Homo sapiens: one gene and its partner. The protein of the gene in region 1 purifies or fractionates together with the protein of each later gene. This does not show direct contact. Each region holds a gene or a part of one and is shown in the gene's direction. Other genes may lie near its edges.

The links. The genes of interacting proteins can lie anywhere in the genome.
Region 2: the proteins of DENND4A (region 1) and MAST3 purify together in Homo sapiens (affinity purification with mass spectrometry, with the first as the bait; one large-scale study listed by BioGRID). This does not show direct contact.

The regions. Positions count from the first base shown.
Region 1 is NC_000015.10:65,790,194-65,793,793, reverse strand, and holds the start of DENND4A (C-myc promoter-binding protein), read left to right. Parts: upstream 1-1,500; 5' UTR 1,501-1,784; exon of another isoform or gene 1,785-1,845; intron 1,846-3,600. UniProt on the Homo sapiens protein: Probable guanine nucleotide exchange factor (GEF) which may activate RAB10. Promotes the exchange of GDP to GTP, converting inactive GDP-bound Rab proteins into their active GTP-bound form.
Region 2 is NC_000019.10:18,128,606-18,132,277, forward strand, and holds part of MAST3 (microtubule-associated serine/threonine-protein kinase 3), read left to right. Parts: intron 1-260; coding exon 261-346; intron 347-1,888; coding exon 1,889-2,097; intron 2,098-3,303; coding exon 3,304-3,442; intron 3,443-3,672.

The DNA.
Region 1 (3,600 bases):
TCAATTGAGCCTGGGAGGGAGGCTGTAGTAAGCCGTGATCAGGCCACTGCACTCCAGCCTGGGCAACATAGCAAGACTCTGTGTCAAAAACAAGTCTTTTTTTACAGCTTTAACTGACATACAGAGGACTACATATATTTAAAGTATGCAACTCGATTGTTTTGTTTTGTTTTAAAGCAAAATCTTGCTCTGTCACCCAGGCTGGAGTGCAGTGGCACAATCTCGGCTCACTGCAGCCTCCGGCTCTGGGGCTCAAGCGATCCTCCCACCTCAGCCTCTCAAGTAGCTGGGACCACAGGCGCACGCCACCACGCCCGGCTAATTTTTTGTATTTTTGGTGGAGACAGGGTTCTCGCCATTTTGCCAGGCTAGTCTTGAACTTCTGAGCTCAAGCTGACCCTCTTGCCTCGGCCTCCCTAAGCGTTGGGATTACAGGCATGAGCAAAGGCGCCTGGCCTCAGTTATTTTTCTAACCTTTATAGCATGTTTCCCCTTAAAATGTGCTTAAGTACTTTTTTATTGTCCCTCTTCTCCCACTAAACTGCAGTTTCCTGAAGGCAAAGGTTTTCTGTTTCCCTCACCACTGTGCACCCTCTGTATGGATGTTTGTTGACTGAATGAATGAATACAATGAAAGAACTGGAGGTAGGAAATAAAGTTGTAAACTTGGTTAGTAAAAGGCTATGCAATTTAGGAAAAGTTGACTTTAAAGCAGAGGGATTTTGGGGGTCCTGTTTCTTCTTTCATTTGTCCATGGAATAATGTCTAACATTTATTGAGTACTTTCAAGCACTATACTAAGTACTTCACAGGTACTATAGAATTTAACTCCCGAGCAACCCCATGGGGGTAATCAAGCTTTATTAACCTCATCTGTCAACAGCCATCAATGGTGGAGAGCCACAGTCAGGTTTAAGTAGGCCGTATCCAATTAATCCAAAGTAATCGACACCCCGTCAGTCAACAATAGCTGTTTCATCAACGTACTTTTCGGAGAAACCCCCTGAATTCCCCGCTTTACCTTTCTATCTTGGGACCGAAACCTACTCGGCGGTTGCTAACCCTTAAGGGAGTTTCCTGGAGAATGTGAGCACCCTTGGTGGAGGAGCAGCAGCTGCTCAGATCTAGCAAGTCTGAGACGAACCGAGCAAGGCAATCTCAGGACTCCCAGAGTGCCGGGGAGGAAGGAAGAAACAGGTCAGTTGGCGCGAACTGGATTCTTGTGCCTCTGGGTGACGAAAGGTGAAGGGATTGTACGCTTCGCCCACGCCAGCCTGGGGCTCGGGATCTCCTGACCCGACGGGGAACCACGGTGCGTTTCCCCAACTACACCGCACGTCACGGACTAAGGCGACTTAGTCCCGCCCACCTTCACCGCCCCATTATCAGTTTGGCGCTAGGACCCCACGACCCTCAACTCGGCCCTCTCCTCCCACTCGGGCCAGATCCGGCCTTCGATTGGTGCTCGCGGGCGTGATTCCCGCCCCCGCCCCTTCCGTCATTGCCAAGATGGCGCCGGTCGCGGTGGCCGCGGAGGCTAGAGTCGGAGAAAGAGGCGGAGGCAGTGGCGGCCGCGAGGGGAGGGGGAGTCCCGTCTGACTGAGACGGCAGGCCTGGGCGGGCGGGCGGGGGTGCCGCGAAGGGCGGAGCGCCGGGCTGGGGATGAGCTAAGCGGGCTCAGAGCGCCGCGGCATTCAGCCCCTCGTGTTCCGCTACCGCGCGTGCGGGATTCCGGCGCCGCTCTCCGAGCTCGATCCGCTGCTCGCACGGGAGCCAGCTGGGTGGTGAGTGCGGGGGCGGCGACCCGGGCAGCGGTGGCAGGTGGAGCTGTCACGGCCCGGAGAGGTGACAGCCGGGGGCGCGGGAGCGGGGCGGGTGGGTTCGGGGAGGAGGCACGGATGGCCGAGATCTCCGCCCGAGAGCTCCTGAGATCCGGGAGGTGCTCCGCGGCTCGGTCCGCCCCGGGATGGCGCGGCGGTGCTGAGAGTAGCACCCGCGCCTCTGCGTCGGACGCGTGGGGGGCTCCTGTGTTTTCATTCCAGATTTTCTATTCCAGGCTGGCCTGGGGCTGTTGTTATTTGGGAGTGGGGGCGGGGAGGGGGAGGTCCTGGATCTGGGATTTTGACAAGCCCGTTACGTAAGTCGGAGGTGGCTTCCCGGAATCCCACCTGCTCGGTATCTGAGACAGGCGGCGGGGGGAGCCCGGGGTGCCTGCAGGCCCACTTTTCCTCCCAGGGTCTGTTCAGCCTTCCCCGGCCCGCGGGCACGGGTTCTGCGTGAGCGCGGCCAGCGTCCAAGTTGACCAGTTTTTTTTCTAGTCTTTTTGGGGGGGTGTGTGGTGGGGGAAGGGAACTGTTCCTGGTTACCACCATTCCCTTTGAAGTTTATTGTTTTCTGGAGGTGGGGGGCAGGAAAAACAGTAAAAAGCTTGTGACCTAAAATTGGGTCGCAGCGACAGCTTTTCATTATCGTGCTTTTAAATGACAGATGTGCTGGAAGATTGTTGTTGTTGTTCCAATGTGCTTTTAATTCAAACGTATGGTTACGCCTAGAACCGTAGAGAGAGGTTTTTGTCTTATAGGACAGTTATTTCTTGTTTGCAACAGCAGGACAGGCATCAGTCAACAGGCATGTATTTATTTGAGGAGAAAACGCGTGTCAGCCAGCTAGAGACCCGTGAGGGCAGAAATTGTATTACTCTGTGAATATGTTATTCTTTAAAATGTATTATACGTTAATGAAAAGAATAGCCCGAATGTAAAAGAAGTCTTAGAAGATTACAAGCTGTTATTTGGTGTGTATATAGTCTCCTTCTATTTTCTGTTTACCCTAGTATACCTCTTCTCTCCTTGGGGGAGGAGGTGGAGACACCTGTAAACAGCGTAGCCCCGGTTACGCTAATCTATTGTAGTACATTTGGGATTATTTTAAGAAGTATTCTGGGGGACCTAAGATTGGGTAATAAGTAAGGACTCTTGAGCAAGTTATTCAGTTTATGTTGATAGCGGTTCTGGGATTCGACTTCTGAAAACTTAAGTATACAAAATTTCTGAGCTGTTTGAACCCTGTTTGAACTTAAAATAAAATATTATATTTGGCTTCTTTTTTGGAAACTGTTTTGGGCAGAATTAAACATTTTCGGCAATTTTTACTTTATTTTCACGATTTCCCTTTGAACCACAGCTCTCAGTAGGAGTCCAGAACAGCATATGTTATCATCATCATTATATATAATATGTTACATAATTTTCTTTTTCTGAATGATTAAACATAGACCTACTTCACTGTGGAGTTTAATTTTTGTTTTATATTATTTTTTAAGCCCCTTCCATTCTGGGATCACTGTGGAATTTTATAACAGTGTACTTGCTGAGAAAGTTAATTGATCTTGATACCAGTCGCAAATTGGGAATAAATGTAGATAACTTTTGGTCCAAGTTTTAAACTTATATACACAAATTTACATTTTTGAAAATTGGTGAAGCAATATGAATTTTTTGTCTGTGCAAGAGAGCCAGGAAGTTGATGCTGATTTGTTCTGAACTTTTCCACATGAATTACCACTGGTTTAAAGAGTTATTGATTCTCAAGTTCCTGGAA
Region 2 (3,672 bases), on another chromosome or scaffold:
CTGCCCTGCCTTGGAAGTCGGGTGGGGGCAGTGCTGGAGGGGCACTGGACAGGTGAGTTTTGCAGGACGTGTAAGAATTTCCCAGGAGGAGGGCACAGCTGTGAGCAAAAAAGTACAGAAAGTCAGAAGCTGAGTTGGAGAAGTTTGGACAGGGGAGGAGGTAGCATCGGGCACCAGGACCAGTGGTTTGGGCTTGGGGGCAGGAGAAGCCTTCCCAGCTCTGCAGCGGGGCAGGACCCTAAGCCCTTCCCATCCCCTAGAGCCGCGCCCTGGTCGGCCAGTCACGGAGGAAGCCATGCGAAAGCGACTTTGAGACCATCAAACTCATTAGCAACGGAGCCTATGGGTGAGTCCCTGAGTCCTGCATAGACCCATTTCACAGATGCCTGAGGGGATGGTTGAGGCCCAGGCAGCTCCTGCATCCCCCTCCTACCCCAGCAGGGCTCACACATTCATCCTTGAATGGGCAGAGAAGGCACCTGAGGACTGGAGGGGGAAGTGGAGACACGCCATAGCGAGGTTACAGCCTCATGTGTGCTCTGTCCACGAGCCAGGCCTTTACCTGCCCCAGGTGTAGGGCGTTCTAGGGGCTTGGGGGCTGATCAAGGAAATAGATGCCCACCCAGTGGGAGTAGCACGCAGTGAGCTTTATTTAGGTGCTGCTTTGAATGGCAGGCTTGCATACAAGGGAAGTCCCTCATAGCATAAGCCTTTTGGAGGCTGAGGTTCCAGGAGTCACCATCAAGAGGGAGAGGCCGGCAAGGGAACTCCCCGGGCAGAGGGGGATCAGAGAGGGGGCTTACATGTCTAGGTGATGTTGTTCAACAGCATGGGCACTCAATCTCTGGGTCAGAGACTCCCTGCAGGGTGGTAGCAGCTTAGGGTCTTGAAATCCACAAAGTTCATCTTATCCATGGCTCAGAGATGGTGCAGTTTCACGAGTCTGCAAAGCAGACAGGCTCTCAGTGGCTAAAATTTTGCTTACTTGGTCTGTGTGTAAAACAAACGGATGTGTAAAACTTTGAGTTTGGTGCTAGCGGTCTTTTAAAAGAGCTAGACCAGGTGCGGAGGCACTTTGGGAGGCCAAGGTAGGAGGATCGCTTGAGGCCAGGAGTTCGAGACCAGCCTGGGCAACATGGCAAAACTCCATCAATACTAAAAATAGAATAATTAACTGGGCGTAATGGCACATGCCTGTAATTCCAGCTACTTGGGAGGCTGAAGTTGGAGGATCACCTGAACCCAGGAGGCAGAGGTTGCAGTGAGCCGAGATCACCCCACTGCACTCCAGCCTGGGTGACACAGTGAGACCATCTCAAAAAAAAAAAAAAAGGAAAGAAAGAAAGAAAGAAATACACAAGCAGCCAGGTGCAGTGGCTCTCGCCTATAATCCCAGCACTTTGGGAGCCCGAAGTGGGAGGGTCACTTGAGGCCAGGAGTTTGAGACTAGCCTCCACAACATAGCGAGACCCCATCTCTACAAAAAATTTAAACATTAGCCAGGTTCTGTTGTGGGAGGATCATTTGAGCCGGGGGGGTGGTAAAGACTATAGTGAGCCGTGATCTCATGACTGTGCTCCAGCCTGGGCAACAGAGTGAGGCGCTATCTCAAAAAACATAAGATAAAATAAAAATAAAAGAAACATACAACCTAGAGGCCAATATACAAGGGCCATGTGCAGCCCATTTATATGGCCCCCAGCCATGGTGGCTTAAACCCAAAGGTGGCTGCTCTGGGAGGGGGAACAGGTAAGGAGAATGGGTGGCCCAGGTGGAGGGCACAGCACAGGCAAAGGCCAGGCAGGTTGGGATCTGGGCTCAAGTTGAGCTGTAGTGCCTGCTGGGGCCTCGATCTCCGGTCCCAGCAAGCCTGGCCCTCTGTCCCCAGGGCCGTCTACCTGGTGCGGCACCGTGACACACGGCAGCGCTTTGCCATCAAGAAGATCAACAAACAGAACTTGATCCTGCGTAACCAGATCCAGCAGGTCTTTGTGGAGCGTGACATTCTCACCTTTGCCGAGAACCCCTTTGTGGTCAGCATGTTCTGCTCCTTTGAGACCCGGCGCCACCTATGTATGGTCATGGAATACGTGGAAGGTACGCTCACTGGGGCTTGCATGCCTCCAGCGATGGGGAGCTCACCCCTCCACGCCTGGGAGAAAATTTTTAGACCAAGTTGAGGTCTGTTCTGTCCTCCATGAGGTCTCACCCTGCTTTGGGGAACCCTCAGGAACCCCAGTCTGGGGTAGGGAGCCCAGCCATGGGGGTTTAGGGCTGGAGGAGCCCAGACAGGAGTGTGTGAGGATGGGACCCTGGAGGCAAGAGGAGGGTGGCCATCCTAGGTGGGGGGAACTGATGGGCAGAGGCCTGGAGACCAGAAGTGAAGGCAGGGAGATGTATGGTTCAGGCAGGTAAAGTACTATTACCAAAGTACTGCCAGGCGAGAGAGCGAACATGCACTTAGGAGACACCAGCTGTATACAGCACTAATTGCTGCCCTGTCGGGGAGAATCAGAAGGCAGGGTCTCAGCTTGGCGCGCTGGCTCACGCCTGTAGTCCCAGCACTTTGGGAGGCCGAAGTGGGCTGATCGCTTGAGGTCAGGACTTCGAGACCAGCCTAAGCAACATGGCGAAACCCCCATTCACGCCTATAGTCCCAGCTACTCGGGAGGCTGAAGCAGGAGATTCGCTTGAACTCTAGAGGCGGAGCTTGCAGTGAGCCGAGACTGCGCCACTGCACTCTAGCCTGGGCAACAGAGCGGGCAACAGAGTGAGACTCTGTCTCAAAAAAATAAATAAAAATTTAAAAAATAGGCCAGGCGCGGTGGCCAACGCCTGTAATCTCAGCACTTTGGGAGGCCAAGGCTGGTGGATCACGAGGTCAAGAGATCGAGACCATCCTGACCAACATAGTGAAGCCCCATCTCTACTAAGAATACAAAAATTAGCTGGGTGTGGTGGTGTGCGCCTGTAATCCCAGCTACTCTGGAGGCTGGGGCAGGAGACTCGCTTGAACCCGGGAGGCGGAGGTTGCAGTGAGCCGAGATCGCGCCACTGCACTCCAGCCTGGCGACAGAGCGAGACTCTCTCTCAAAAAGAAGAAAAAATTAAAAAATTAAAAATAAATGAAGGTAGGGTCCGCCCCTTCCCTCTCCCCCGACCCTCCCCGCTGAGATAGAACAAACTGGGGACCTTTTGCAGGAGGTAAAGCGAGGAGGATGCATAGGCATTGGGCATAACCTAAGGGGCGGGCGGGGGGCGGGGGTGCCCCGGGCCTCATGACTACATCCGCCCTTCTCCCAGGCGGCGACTGCGCCACGCTCCTGAAGAACATGGGCCCGCTGCCCGTGGACATGGCCCGCCTGTACTTCGCCGAGACGGTGTTGGCGCTGGAGTACCTGCATAACTATGGCATCGTGCACCGTGACCTCAAACCAGACAAGTGAGCTGAGCTAGCATGAGCGGGGCCTCGCGGAGGGCGGGGCCAGAGAGGATCAGGGGCGGGGCCAAAGAGGATCAGGGCAGAGCCTCTGAGGTGCATCCCGGGACCCTTCAGGAGCCCCATCTGTCTGAGCTCTGTTGGTACCTCCTGACAGGAAGGCAGGGAATGAGCGCATGGTGAACATCTTGTGTGTACAGAGGAGAGGAGAGCAGACACTTAATAGGCGTCTG